4 linked regions of the Homo sapiens genome follow. The protein of the gene in region 2 purifies or fractionates together with the protein of the main gene of each other region. This does not show direct contact. Each region holds a gene or a part of one and is shown on either strand. Other genes may lie near its edges.

Region 1 (3,145 bases), on a different chromosome or scaffold from region 2:
GTTTTATTATTTATGAAGTGGTTAGAAAAAAAAAATCTCTAATATTGTTCAACAAATTCAGATAGGAAAAATCTTCTCAGAATTGAAGTTTTGCTAAGAAGGGATTTAATCTTTCTTTGCCTGCCACCGGTGTATGTGTGTGATTGTGTGTGCACATATACTTGTTGCCCTCACCTTTACACTCTGCCCCTCTTAGAGCTTCACTAACTCTCAAATCTCTAACTTAAGTTTACACTTTTCTTCTGAGCTCTAGATATTTTCCAAATTTAACATGTTTAAAAAGTACATTTATTTCCCCCCGATTCTTCACTGCTCACTTTTATACCGACTGATTACAAAGAAAAACAGATGGAAAACACACACATACACAGAAAGCTTAACTGTTGTTCTATCTTCAGTAGCAGCAGCACCAGCAACCTTATCAAATAAGCAACATCTTCAGGGTTGTCTTGAACAGTTCTCATCACCCATCAAGTTTGCTGGCTGATCCTCTAATTTGTATTCTCCTCCGTGCCTACGGGCTGCTGATACCAACAAATTTTTTTTTAGAAAGTTATCTTTTTGCATTTTAAGCTTTACAGTTTGTTATTAGGACAGTCAGGATACTTGCTGAATGTTCACATGTATAAAATGTGAATTTTAAGACTTCACAATAAAACACTGAATGAATTACTATAACGTTATATTTAGCAAACATTGTTTACATTCCATATGTAGAACACTTTACATCTTAGTAAAGGGGAAGAGGAACAAGAGCAATAAAAGAAGTTGAAAAATATTTGCTGCTATTCATCAGTCAAATTAAGGAACTGAAGTACAAGCAATCAAATAGAATGGAATTATAAAAGATGGTAAAGCTGCAAGACATTAATAGAATAGATGCTTGCTGCTCCAAGTGTGGATCATGGACCAGCAGCTTTAGCATCACCTTGGAGGTTGTTAGAAATGCAGGACTTTAGGCCCCTGCTGAATCAGAATCTGCATTTTAACAAGATCCCCAACTAATTTGTATGCACATTAAAGTTCGAGAAGCCCTGGCCTCGATACTTGTGACCTAACATTGTTTTAAGTTTGTAGTGTGCTAACGAATTTAATCTCCCACAACAACCCCGTAAGGCAAGTACCATTGCTATTTCCCATTTTATAGTTGAAGAAACCTGTTTGACCGAGGTTCCTCAGGTAGTAAGTGGCAGAGCTGGAATTTACACCCAGACATTTTGCTTTTGTATTTCTCAGTTGACTATGCTGTACTCTCTATATAAAGGGCTAAGTGAATATGGACTAAAAGCAGCTTACAAATAGGGCTTGGCAAATAAGGAAAGACAACTTGAAGGTGAGATGTGGGTGCATGGCCCTAAACTCTACATTACATTTTTTTAAACACATTCACATGTTCATTTGAAGAAATGTATTATTCATTATTGCTGTCTAAAGAGATGAATTTGGTGACCGCATCTTTTTTCTAGAATGTCAAAGTGTTATTTATTTCTCTTAACAATGAGTAAATGATGTCTTTATTACTAAACAGGATTTATTAGAATCAAAGCAAAAGCAAACACTGTATTTGAATTGATACATAGTAAATGCTCAACTAGTTGGATTTTGTCCTTTTTTTTCTAAATCTGAATGACGCTTGAGTTAATAGCACTTAATGTCAGTGTGTGCACTGATGTTTTTAAGTTTGATTGCCCACTAATCTTTTTCATTTATACAGCAGACTGAGAGGAAGATGAATTGTTGAGCTATCTGCTTAGGGGTGAAAATACTAGAAAACTTTTAACACTTTGTGTCTTCTTGGGAAATTTTTCACAGAAGAATCCCAGAGGATTTGTTTTTGTTTTTGATCTATTCTTTCCAGATAACTGTAGTAATTGATTTAAGTTTTAATCTGTTACAGAGAAAAACACTAAAACTTTATAGACAAATGATAGACAAATGGCATATACTCAAATATTTATAGCTGTTTAATGGCATTTTATAGACATTTATTTGGGTTTTGTTCTTATTTTTGTTTTTAATTAAGGGAGTAGTGGGGTAGATGTGAGTTCATTGTGGCATTCAGCTTATATTTGCTTGGCTTTTTCATGGTCGGTGACACCCTAATTCCTAGCATGATAAATAGTAACCCTTTGTGCTTGATTTTGTTTAACTTATTTGAGTTGTTTTCAAAATACATTCTTTTTAATTTAAAAAATCAGCTAAGCTTGTGTATGGTTAAGTTTTTGTTTTGTTTTGTGTTTGATTTGTTCTTTTAGGGAAAAAATCCTATAAAATGGCTATTAAATTTTTAGCCAATGACAATGAGATTTTCTTAATATTACTTTGAATTCTTTACCTCTTAATTCTTAGAGTATGTGGTTTTGTTGTTCTGTAGTGTCTTACTAAAATATTCATTTTTTTACAGTGTATTGCAAGTTCCACTGCATTACATGCAAATATGATTCACTCATACCTAGCTGTTTGTGGATTCAAACTCATAAATGAACCATTTTTAAGTTGTTAATAGTGTACTGACATATTTCTGTATTTTCTGATATTTACAGATTCGAGTGGTGAATGCATTTCGTAGTTCTTTATATGAAGGGTTAGAAAAACCGGAATCAAGAAGTTCGATTCACAACTTTATGACACATCCTGAGTTTAGGATAGAAGATTCAGAGCCTCATATCCCCCTTATTGATGACACTGATGCCGAAGATGATGCTCCTACAAAACGTAACTCCAGTCCTCCACCCTCTCCCAACAAAAATAACAATGCTGTTGACAGTGGAATTCACCTTACAATAGAAATGAACAAGTCTGCTACCTCTTCATCCCCAGGAAGCCCACTACATAGTTTGGAAACATCACTCTGATTGTAAGCTGAATGTTAACACACTAGCTGCATTGTAAAGAAACAAATTGAAACTGGGTCTTTTCACATATTGTGATGGACAAGCTAGTATTCTTGTCTTTGGACTTCAACAGAAGACACACTTGTACGAATGTAGATTTATTTTTTTAAAAAAAAAAAAGCAAAGCTTTCTGCCAGACTGAGGGTGCTTTTTGGGGGGTGGGAGAAATGAACTGACAGATAAACAGTAACTCAGCGTAAGTGACCTGTGGATCATCAGTAGTACCCAAGCATGGTCCTGAACAGTGTATT
Region 2 (4,156 bases):
TCTTATGCAGTGCCCAGTATGTGCAGAAGGGTTCTCTGTTGGAGATACTGTGCATATTGAAGGTGTTTAGGGCACATCCCCAATCAAGATGGCTATCTCAGAAGCAGAAAAACTACCTTCCCTGGCACCCCAGGGGAATGAAGAAGCCCTTTCCCCTGTTGCAGAAGAAAAGCCCTGTCAGGGTACTGGCCAGGGCGGGGCTGGGGTTGGGCGCTGACTGGAATCTGTCCAGGGTGTAGTCACCTGTTTTGCTCTTTATCTTTAGCCTCTTCCCCCATCTTTACCCTTACATACCCATCCCTCTAATTTCTCCTTCAACACTTGACTTACCTGGCCTACCCTATTCCATGTTGGTTTCACTTGTTCCGACCTGAGTTGTTCCCTCTCTTGCCCTGCTTATTTGTCTCGGTTCAGTATAAACTCCGCCTTCCGGGTTCCAGCGGTTCTCCTGCCTCAGCCTCCAGAGTAGCTGGGTACAGGTGCATACCACTAAGCCCGGGTAATTTTTTTTTTTTATTTGAGACGGGGTTTTGTCGTTTTGCCCAGGCTGGAACTCCTGAGCTCAGGTGATCGCCCGGCTCAGCCTCCCAAAGTGCTGGGATTACAGGCGTGAGCCACCGCCTCTGGCCCGGACTCTTGCCCTGCTTCCAAATGCTAGCTAACCTGTGAGCCTTTCGCCTGTCCCCTTTGCCATCCTCAGTGGTGACTCACTTGTCTTCCCTTATGTGCGTCAACTTTCCTTTGCATTTTCACTTGTTTATCCTCACCTGCTCTGCTTTTATCTGCTAGCTTAACATTCCTGACTCGCACCTGATGCCAGTACGCCCTCACCCCGACCCCGCCAGGTCAAAGTTTCTTCGTCCCCAGATTCCCGTGTGCTCTCCAGGGGGCGAGGCCTCTCTGGAAGACGGGAAAGCGGAATTTCAGTCCAACCATGAAGCACCTGGTAGTTTCTGATACGGAAAGGGCGGCGCCTTATGGAGAAGCTGCCAATAAAGAGCCGAGATGAAAGGGGTGGCTGAACCAATGAGTCTAGGAGACAAGATCGGGGGATGATCTGGAAAGCGCGATCAGTGAAGCGGACGAACGGCAGGATAAGGCGGGTCTAGTGACAGGAATGGGCCGATGAAGCTCTGTAGGGATGGTGGGTAGGCCGATCGGGCCGTGTCCCCGGCCTCCCGATCCGACGGAATTTGGAAATCCCGGGGCTATTCATACATTGAGCTTTTAGGAGCGGAGGAGAAAAGCCACCACCCTGACGATCCCGGCTCTCGCTCCACCTTCACTCAGGTGGCCCGGCAGCGGAAGTGACGAACGCGGAAGTGGTTTTTCTGTTGCCGAGGGGACGGGCCGGGCAGATGCCAACATGGCAGCGGTTGGGGCTGGTGGTTCCACCGCGGCGCCCGGGCCAGGGGCGGTTTCCGCGGGTGCATTGGAGCCGGGGACCGCCAGTGCGGGTGAGACAGTCTGCCCGAGCAGTCGCATGGGAGGCGGAGGTCGGGATCGCTGGGAGTCGGGAATGTTCCTCACTAAAGTGAGAGGGAGCATCCCGTGTGGACCGACGTGTGTGTGTGTGTGTGTGTGCACATTGTCAGTGTGTTGGGGGCGGGGAAGAGAACATTCTGAGAGTGATTGTGGGATCCTTCCGCATATGGAGAGTAGAGACCATTGTGAGTGTGGTGGGTAATTCTTTTTGGGAAGGCTAAGGCCACCGAAACCATTCTGAATATGTGGAGTCCTTCCGTGTGGAAGAGACCATTCTGCGGGTGTGGGAGTTCCTCACTGAAGAAGGGGGAGACTATTCTGAGGGTGGTGGTTCCTTCCTTATAAAGGGACAGAGACTATTGTGAGTTAGGGTGGGGCGAGTCCTTCTTTATGTGACTAGAGAGGGTCCATTTTGAGGATGGGGGTGTCTTTCATTATGTGCGGAGGAGACCGTTCTGGGGGCTCCCTCCTAATGGAGGTAGAGTTCATTGTACATTCGGGTGGGAGGGCTCATCGTTATATGGTGGAGAAAGAACGTTCTGAGAGTGCCGGGTCCTTCCTTATAGCAGAGAGAGCTCATTGTGAGTGTGGGTAGAGCAAGGAAAAATTCATTAGCTAGAGGGTCCGTGTGCGGTGGTGGGAGGGCAGACCATGTGGAGTGCAGGGAAGTATTTCCTCATCTGGTTGAGGGAGCCAGACCTTTCTTGGTGGGATAACCATTCCTGATACAGGATTCAGTCCCTGGGAGCATGTGGGAATCATTTCTTGTATTTAGTAGACTATTCTGGTTCGAGAGGAACCAGTTGTCACAGGAGTGAGGGGTTGGAGAGACCATTCTGGGTATGAGGAGGATCATTCCATATGGGATGTAGGCCATTCTCAGTGTGAGGGAATCGAATCATTTCTTAGATAGGAGAAAGACCGTTCTTAGGGGGTGAACATACCTCATACAGTGGCCTCATTCCCTGCATTGATGTGTTATTCTTTACATGAGACAGTCCCTCATTAAACAGGAGCATCATTTCATATAAATTCTCAGTTTGCTAATCCATAAATGGGAATCCTCGCAGTTCTTTTGGAGATGACAGTGATATGAGTCTATTGAGGTAATCCATAGAAATCCCTTAACCCAGTGATAGGCATACAGTAAACACTCAATAAACGTGGAGAATGTAGTTGTCGGTATTCTTTCTGGGGAAGAGTTGCTTCTCACTTGGGAGGAAGCCGAGGCGCGTGGCCAGGGTTTGCCTCAGCCATTACCTGACACCTCAGTAAGGATTCCAGGTATGGACTGGGACAGGGTGGGGCCCATTTCTCCCTTCTGGCTCTTCCTGCTCATGGCTGAGGCAGTAAGCCGGTAGGAGTCAGACCCTTATTGGGTGAGGGCAGGCAGGCTGAGGGAGCAAGTAGCCATGGCTAGGAGGGTCCTGGGTGAGAAAGAAAGGGGGTGGGTGGTGGTGTGGCTATGCCCCAGCGGCTTCTGACCCCGTCCTTCCCCCTTGCCCCTTCCGTTCCCCACAGCTCACAGGCGCCTGAAGTACATATCCCTAGCTGTGCTGGTGGTCCAGAATGCCTCCCTCATCCTCAGCATCCGCTACGCCCGCACGTTGCCAGGGGACCGCTTCTTTGCCACCACTGCTGTGGTCATGGCGGAAGTGCTCAAAGGTCTCACCTGCCTGCTGCTGCTCTTCGCACAGAAGAGGGGTACGAACCAGGGATGGGGCTGCACTGGGGTCGGTGGGTGAGACTCCACATGTATGTGTGTGTGTTCACACAGATGGTTTGCTTCAGGAGTGTCTCCAAATCTCAACCTGCCTGGAGCGCCACTCCAGCTATGCGTAGCGGCATCTTACACTTTTCTAGCCCTAACAGCCGGGTAGCCGGCCTGTGTGGGCTGTAGGAGTGAGATTGCCAATGCTTATAAAGTAGCAGGGATCTCTCACATGTGATTTAGCTTCATATTATGGAGAATTCCGAATACATGCAAAATCAGAGAGAATAATCAAATAGTAAAATATCCATGTACCCATCCCCCAGAGTCAGCAATTAGCAACTCATGGCCGCTTTAAACAACATCAGTGATTGTTCACTCACTGCCAATCTATATGTCTACCTACGTCCTTATCCTCTTATTATTTTTAAGTAAATCCCACACGAAGTAATATTGTATGGAAGTAAATTCCCCTGAATTATCTTGAATAAATGTAGCTGGGATTACAGGCACGTGCCACCACGCCCAGCTAATTTTTTTGTATTTTTAGTAGAGAAGGGGTTTCACCATGTTAGCCAGGATGGTCTCGAACTCCTGACCTCGTGATCCGCCCACCTCAGCCTCCCAAAGTGCTGGGATTACAGGCGTGAGCCACCAGGCTGGCCTTGTTTGGTATCTTCTAAATCTGTTAATCTCTAGGGGTTTTTTGGTCTTTGCAATTAATTTGTTGGAGAAAACAGGTCATTTGTTTTGTAGACTTTGGGTAGTCTGGATTTTGCTGACTGCCTCCCTAAGGCAAATATTCTCAAAAATTTAACAAGTATTCTGTCTTCTACATCTCTTGTAAATTGGAAGTTGGGTTTATCTGCTAATTTCAACATCTCCCTGAAGGCCTTCTACTTTGAAGTGTTGCCCAATTGTTTCTCTAAAAAGGTCTTGCATAAGTAAAGGGATGGAGAT
Region 3 (3,500 bases), about 100 Mb from region 2:
AAAAAGAAGCACAGAAAGAGGGCTGAGGCCCCCACACCAGCAGGGATGGCTCCAGGGAGGAGGTGGTCCTGGCCCTGGCAGTGAGCGCTGCACCTGGCAGAGTTCTGGGAGAGCGCTGTGGGTGGGGCGGCCAGGCAGGGTGCACTTGGTGGTCCAGTCCGCAGAACACAGGAAGGAGCGTGGGCCTGGGCCTTTGGGGAGCCCTGGGCGTCCTGCAGAGGACCTTGCCCTGAGGGCCCTGGGACGGCAGTCATGAGGAGCGAGGTGACTTGTGGACAGAGACGCCAAGGCCAAGGGTGTGGAGTCCGGGAAGGCTGAGTGGGAGTGGGGAAGCCAGGGCATTTGGAGGTGACGCTGTGCACTCTCCCTTACTTTGTTCTAATAGCTTTATTGGGATATAATTCACGCACCACACAGTCCACCCATTTAAAGTAGATAATTCGATGGTTTTTAGTATAGTCACAGAGCTGCACGACCATCACCAGTCTCCAATTCCAGAAAATTTTCATCATCTCTAAGAAAATTTTCATCATCTCTAAGCAACAACAAGAAAATAGATCAACTGGACGTCATCACGATTTAAAACATTTGTGCACCTAAGGACACTATCAAGAGAGTGAAGACAGGCCACAGAATGGGACAGAATGTGTAGAAATCGCATAGCTGATAAGGATCTAGGATCCAGAATACAGAAAAAATGTTACAGCCCAACAATAAAAAGACAAACAACCCAACTCAGCAATGAGCAAAGGGCTAGGACAGACATTTCCCCAAGGAAGACAGGCAAATGGCCAGTCAGCACAGCAAAAGAGGCTCAGCGTTGTTAGTCATCAAGGAAACACAGATCAAAACCACCAGGAGATATTGCCTCACACCCACAAGGATGGCCCCCATCAGCATTGTCACACCAGAAAATAAGTGCTGTTGAAGATGGGGAGAAGGTGGAACCCTCCTATGTCGCTGGTGGGAATGTGAAACGGTGCTGCCCCTGTGGAAAACAGTTTCGTGGACACCACGACCCAGCCATTCCTCTCCTAGATGTCCACGCAAAAGAATTGAAAACATGGGTTCAAACAAAAACTTGTACGTGAATATTCACAGCAGCGTGACTCGTGACAGCCAAAAGGTGGAAACGACTCACGTGCTGGTAGACGTGCTGGTAGACAGATGAAGGGATGGATGGACCAACACAATGCTCTTTAGCATACAATGGATATTACTCAGCCTTAGAAAGAATGGAAGTTCGGGCTGGTGGCAGTGGCTCATTCCTGTAATCCTAGCACTTAGGGAGGCCGGGTGGGTGGATCGCTTGAGCCCAAGACTTCAAGACCACCCTGGGCAACATGAGGAGACCCCAGCTCTACAAAAAATTTGAAAATTCGCTGGGCGTGGTGGCATGCACATGTAATCCCAGCTACGGGGGACACTGACGTAGGAGGATGGCTTGAGGGAAAAAACAAAACAAAACAAAAAAAGAAAGGAAGGTCTAATATCTGAGGGAAACGGAAAAACTTTACACTAAGGAAAGAAGCCAGACACAAAAGGCCACACAGTGTATGAGTCCCTTGATAGGAAATGTCCAGACAGGCAAATCCATACAGACAGGAAGCACATGAGGCTGGGGAGGGGCGTGGGGAGGGCTGCTCATGGGCCTGGGGTTTCTTTCCGGGTTGATGGAGGTGTTTTGGAACTGGGTAGTGGTGACGGTTGCATGATATTGTGAACGTGCTTAATGCCATTCAACTGTACACTGTAAAGTGGTTGAAATGGTGAATTTTACGTTCGGCCTCTTTTACCACGACAATAGAATCAGAAACTCCGTGCGTACCCCGGCACCTCCCTGCTGCTCACTCACTTTTTCAAGAGGATCTCTGAGGCCCCCTTGCTGAAGAGGCGGAAGCCACCGTCGGGCATGCGGATGACTGTGCTCATGGACTTGCGGACCGAGTTGAAGGTGTACACTTTGTAAAGCTTGTCTTCCGGGATCTGCTCGCGCACGGGCTGGAAGTCCCGCTTCAGGTCCAAGACGAAGCCCAGCAGGGCGCACTCCGTCTTATTGCCCACCTGGCGTGGGAGGGCGCCTTCCTTCTCAGGAGGCTGCAAGATGACGAGGGCTAGCAGGCACTGGGGGCCTGAGACCACCCTCCATGCTGCCCCTGGAGCCCCAGCTCTGCCCCCTCGTGGTCACCACATTGTTAGGGTGTGGGCGGCAGGGAGCAGAGGAAGGTCGGCCTTAGCTACAGGCAGTTTCCCAGCCAGAGCCACCTGTGAGGCCAGGGATGGGCAAAAGTTCTCAAGGGGGGGCCTAATGAGCACCTTGCAACAGCTCACCTGGCACCCTGGCCAGGACCCTCCCCTGCTCCTGCCCCCGGCCCTGCCCGCCCGCTCCTGCCCCAGCTCACTAGTATTTTGGTGGTATAGGCACTGTTGATGGAGATGGCATGGACCAGGAGGTCGAGGATCTTAGGGGTCAGGGCGCTGGGGGCCGGAATCTCTTTGTAGTGGGTGTCTCCTAGGTAGGACTGGACCACGGTCATACGGTTGGTGGTGAGCGTGCCCGTCTTGTCGGAGCAGATGGCTGTGGCGTTGCCCATGGTCTCGCAGGCATCCAGGTGGCGCACCAGGTTGTTGTCTTTCATCATTTTCTGCAAAGGGCGAGGGTGTGGGCATTTGGCCCAGGTGCTTGTTGGGGTGGAGGAGTGAGAGATGTCAACACAAACATCGCGTGACTCTGTTCTGCTCAGCTAGCTCCACGTGTGGCACTAAGCCCACTGGGCACCTGGTCAGCCCTGAGCCAATAGCGAGGCTGTAAGGCATCAGCAACCTCATCCAATGGTGGGGGCGGGATGCGCACCCGGGACCTCCCCTGCCCGAGCCCCCTCTCAGTTACCCACCAGCCCTGCAGCTCTCCCACCCCACCACCCCACCACCCCACCACCCCACACCTGGCTCCCCCCACCTCCTCCCACTGCCTCCCAGTGTCCCGGGCCCTCTGCTGATTCTCCGCTTCCCCGCTGCCTCCCAGCCCCTCCGTCCTACTGCCCACATTGTGCAGATGCTGAACCCCTGGGTATCTCACCGCCTGCCTGCTTTCTGGCCCATCTCATGCCGAGGGACCTGAGCTGACAGATCAGCAAAGCTGCCCCCTGGGTCCCTGCTCGGCACCTCCTCTCCTCCCTTGAGCTATCCCAAACGTCCCCAGTTTATACTGCCACCAAGGCGCCCAATGACTTCTTACCCCAGTTTCCGAGTCTGTAAACAGTATCAACTGTAAGTTTTATGATTACCTTGACAGAGTAAGCTAAGGAGATGGTGACAGCAAGAGGCAGGCCCTCTGGGACAGCCACGACCAGCACAGTGACACCAATGATGAAGAACTTCACGAAGTATTGTACATAGACCGGCGTGCACTCTGCCAGCCATGTCCGGCCTTCCACGACAAACGTCTCAATCACAAAGTAGAGGACCAGGATGATGACGGTGATGGCAGACATCACCAG
Region 4 (3,018 bases), on a different chromosome or scaffold from region 2:
CCTGGGTTCAAGCAATTCTACCTAAGCCTCCCGAGTGGCTGGGACCACAAGTATGTGCCACCACACCCGGGTCATTTAAAAAGTTGTTTTGTTTGTAGAGACAGGGTCTTACCATGTTTCCCAGGCTAGTCTCAAACTCCTGGGCTCAAGCTATCCTACCTCAGCCTCACAAAGTGCTGGGATTACAGGTGTTGGGCCAACTGGCCTGGCCTAAAATGGGCAAAGGACTCGAACAGACATTTCTCCAAAGAAGAGAGATGGCCAATACGCACGTGAAAAGATGCTCAACATTATTAATCATTAGGGAAATGCAACTCAAAACCACAAGATAACATTTCACACCCACTAGGATGACTGTAACAAAAAATAAGTGTTGATGAGGAAGTAGAGAAATTAGAACCTTCATACACTGCTAGCAAGAGTTTAAAATGGTTTAGCCACTGTGGTAAACAGTCTCCAGTAATTCCACTTTCAGGTATACACAGATGAAAACATGCTAACACAAAAACTTGCATGCAAATGTCCATAGCCACGTTATGATAGCCAAGAGGTGGAAAAACCTAAATATCCATCATGTCCATTAACTGATGAATGGATAAATAAAATGTGTATCCATAAAAGAGAGTATTATTCAGCCATAAAAAGAAAAGTACTGATACATGCTACAACATGGATGAACGTTGAGAACATGCTAAATTAAAGAAGCCAGTCTTGGCTGGGCGCGGTGGCTCATACCTGTAATCCCAGCACTTTGGGAGGCCGAGGCGGGCCAATCACCTGAGGTCAGGAATTTGAGACCAGCTTGGCCAACATGGTGAAACCCTGTCTCTACTAAAAATGCAAAAATTAGCCGGGCATGGTGAGAGGTGCCTGTAATCCCAGCTACTTGGGAGGAGGAGAATCACTTGAACCCTGGAGGCAGAGGTTGCAGTGAGCTGAGGTTGCGCCATTGCACTCCAGCCTGGACAACGAGCAAAACTCCGTCTCAAAAAATAATAAAAATAAGCCAGTCACAAAATCCCATGTACTGTGTGATTCCATTTAAATAAAGTGTATAGAGGCCAGCCACAGTGGCTCAAAGTGCTGATTAATCTCGGCACAGTAGCTCATAATGCTGAGTAATCTCAGCTCAGTGGCTCAAAGTGCTGAATCTGAGCACTTTGGCAAGCCGAGGTGGGAGGATTGCTTGAGCGCAGGAGGTTGAGGCTGCAGTGAGCTGTGATCAAGCCACTGCACACTGCAGCCTGGACAAGAGTGAGACCCTGTCTCAAAAATTAAGTATAGAATAGGTAAATCTATAGAGACAGTAGAACAGTGATAGGCAGGCCTGGGGTAATAGAATGGAGAATGACTAATGGGGAGTGGGATTTTGAGGGTGGGGTGGGTGATAAACTTCCAGAATTAGATGCTGATAGTTGCACAGCCTTGTGAATATACTAAAAAACCACTGACTTACACACTTTTAGATGGTGTACGGTGTATGAATTATATCTCAATTTAAAGAAAAACAGGCAATGGGCCAGATTTGGCCTGTCAGCCATACATAGTTTGCCAACCCTTGGTATAAAACGAAGATGGAATTTCAAGAGCTTCAAGTCGTAATTTATTTTGAGACGGTGTCTTGCTGTATCCCAGACTGGAGTGTAGTGGCGTGATCTCGGCTTACTGCAACCTCTGCCTCCCAGGGTTCAAGCGATTCTCCTGCCTCAGCCTTCCGAGTAGCTGGGATTACAGGTGCGCACCACCACGCCCAGCTAATTTTTGTATTTTTAGTAGAGACAGGGTTTCACCATGTTGGAAAGGCTGGTTTCGAACTCCTGACCTCAGGTGATCCACCCACCTCGGCCTCCCAAAGTGCTGGGATTACAGGCGTGAGCCACCGTGCCCAGCCAAGTCATAATTTATGAAGAAATTCACATCCCCTTGCCTGTTTGGTTTCTACCTAAATGAAGTCATCTTCCCTCTGAAGTTAAAAATCAGTTTCCACAGATGTTTCTCTTCCACAAAACACTTCCTTACCTCAATTGCATCCAGAGTATCATTCAGTTGTTTTCTTTCCTTCTGTTTGTGATCAGTCTCAGGCCCCTCATAGAAGACCCCAAAGTTGAGGTACACTTGCACAGAACCGAAGTGATTATGCTGATTACTTAGACAAAGCTGATAAAAACCTGTAGGAATTCTTAGATCATTACCAAGTCTTTGGTCTCCTCCCCTTTGTTAAGGATTCCCTGGAGGTATCTGTCCTCTAGTTTTGGAATTCTACTACAGGACCTTCTTTTTACTTAGAAAGTACAAAGATCCCGTTTTTGACATGGAAGACACGGACCTTATGTTAAACTTATACTAAATATTACTTATTATATTTGGCCAAATTTTAGTAACTCGTTCTTTCCATACTGGGTAGTGGCAAACAATGTTTTCTCTTTAACATATAATTCCCACATCTTGTATTAAGGAACTCCTGCTCAACAGATTGAGTTGAAGTTAAGAGCATGGTGTTTGCCTGGTCCTTGTATACAATTAAAGCTAGGGACACCATCTTGAACTTGAAATTAGGAAAGACAAAAAAAAAAAATAGATGCATAGTGCATGAAAGCAGCTCTCCTGGAGTGATTGCCTCCAAGGCGGTGTGTACAGTGACTCATGGTTTGGTTATATCTGTTGGGGCTGGGGTTGCCTCCCTTTGTGTGTGCGGGGGGGAGGGGGGCGCGGGGTGGGGAGCGGGTGGGAAGGAGCAAGGTGGAGAGGACCGGTAGAAGATGGGTGGGGTGGGATTAGAAAGGTGTGGCAGTGTTTGAAAGTCAAAATGATTGGAAGGCACTACTGGCATGTAGGGGCCAAAGATGTTCAAGATCTTTTTTTTTTTTAGACGAGTCTCGCTCTGTTGCCCAGACCGGAGTGCAATGGCGCGCTCTCGGCCCACTGCAGTCTCTGCCTCCAGGTTCAAGCAATTCTCTTGCCTCAGCCTCCCAGGTAGCTGGGATTACAGGCGCCTGCCACCACACCCAGCTAATTTTT

What was found. Proteins that work in one complex are often made in the same cells at the same time.
Region 1: the proteins of SLC35A2 (region 2) and ATP2B1 purify together in Homo sapiens (affinity purification with mass spectrometry; one large-scale study listed by BioGRID and IntAct). This does not show direct contact.
Region 3: the proteins of SLC35A2 (region 2) and ATP2B3 purify together in Homo sapiens (affinity purification with mass spectrometry; one large-scale study listed by BioGRID and IntAct). This does not show direct contact.
Region 4: the proteins of SLC35A2 (region 2) and TMED6 purify together in Homo sapiens (affinity purification with mass spectrometry; one large-scale study listed by BioGRID and IntAct). This does not show direct contact.

The regions. Positions count from the first base shown.
Region 1 is NC_000012.12:89,590,694-89,593,838, reverse strand, and holds part of ATP2B1 (plasma membrane calcium-transporting ATPase 1), read left to right. Parts: intron 1-2,543; coding exon 2,544-2,855; 3' UTR 2,856-3,145. UniProt on the Homo sapiens protein: Catalyzes the hydrolysis of ATP coupled with the transport of calcium from the cytoplasm to the extracellular space thereby maintaining intracellular calcium homeostasis.
Region 2 is NC_000023.11:48,908,847-48,913,002, reverse strand, and holds the start of SLC35A2 (UDP-galactose translocator), read left to right. Parts: upstream 1-1,356; 5' UTR 1,357-1,366; coding exon 1,367-1,457; coding exon of another isoform or gene 1,458-1,496; intron 1,497-2,685; coding exon of another isoform or gene 2,686-2,769; intron 2,770-3,006; coding exon 3,007-3,189; intron 3,190-4,156. UniProt on the Homo sapiens protein: Transports uridine diphosphate galactose (UDP-galactose) from the cytosol into the Golgi apparatus, functioning as an antiporter that exchanges UDP-galactose for UMP.
Region 3 is NC_000023.11:153,548,642-153,552,141, reverse strand, and holds part of ATP2B3 (plasma membrane calcium-transporting ATPase 3), read right to left. Parts: coding exon 3,288-3,500; intron 2,646-3,287; coding exon 2,403-2,645; intron 2,098-2,402; coding exon 1,856-2,097; intron 1-1,855. UniProt on the Homo sapiens protein: ATP-driven Ca(2+) ion pump involved in the maintenance of basal intracellular Ca(2+) levels at the presynaptic terminals. Uses ATP as an energy source to transport cytosolic Ca(2+) ions across the plasma membrane to the extracellular compartment.
Region 4 is NC_000016.10:69,345,769-69,348,786, forward strand, and holds part of TMED6 (transmembrane emp24 domain-containing protein 6 precursor), read right to left. Parts: intron 2,169-3,018; coding exon 2,020-2,168; intron 1-2,019.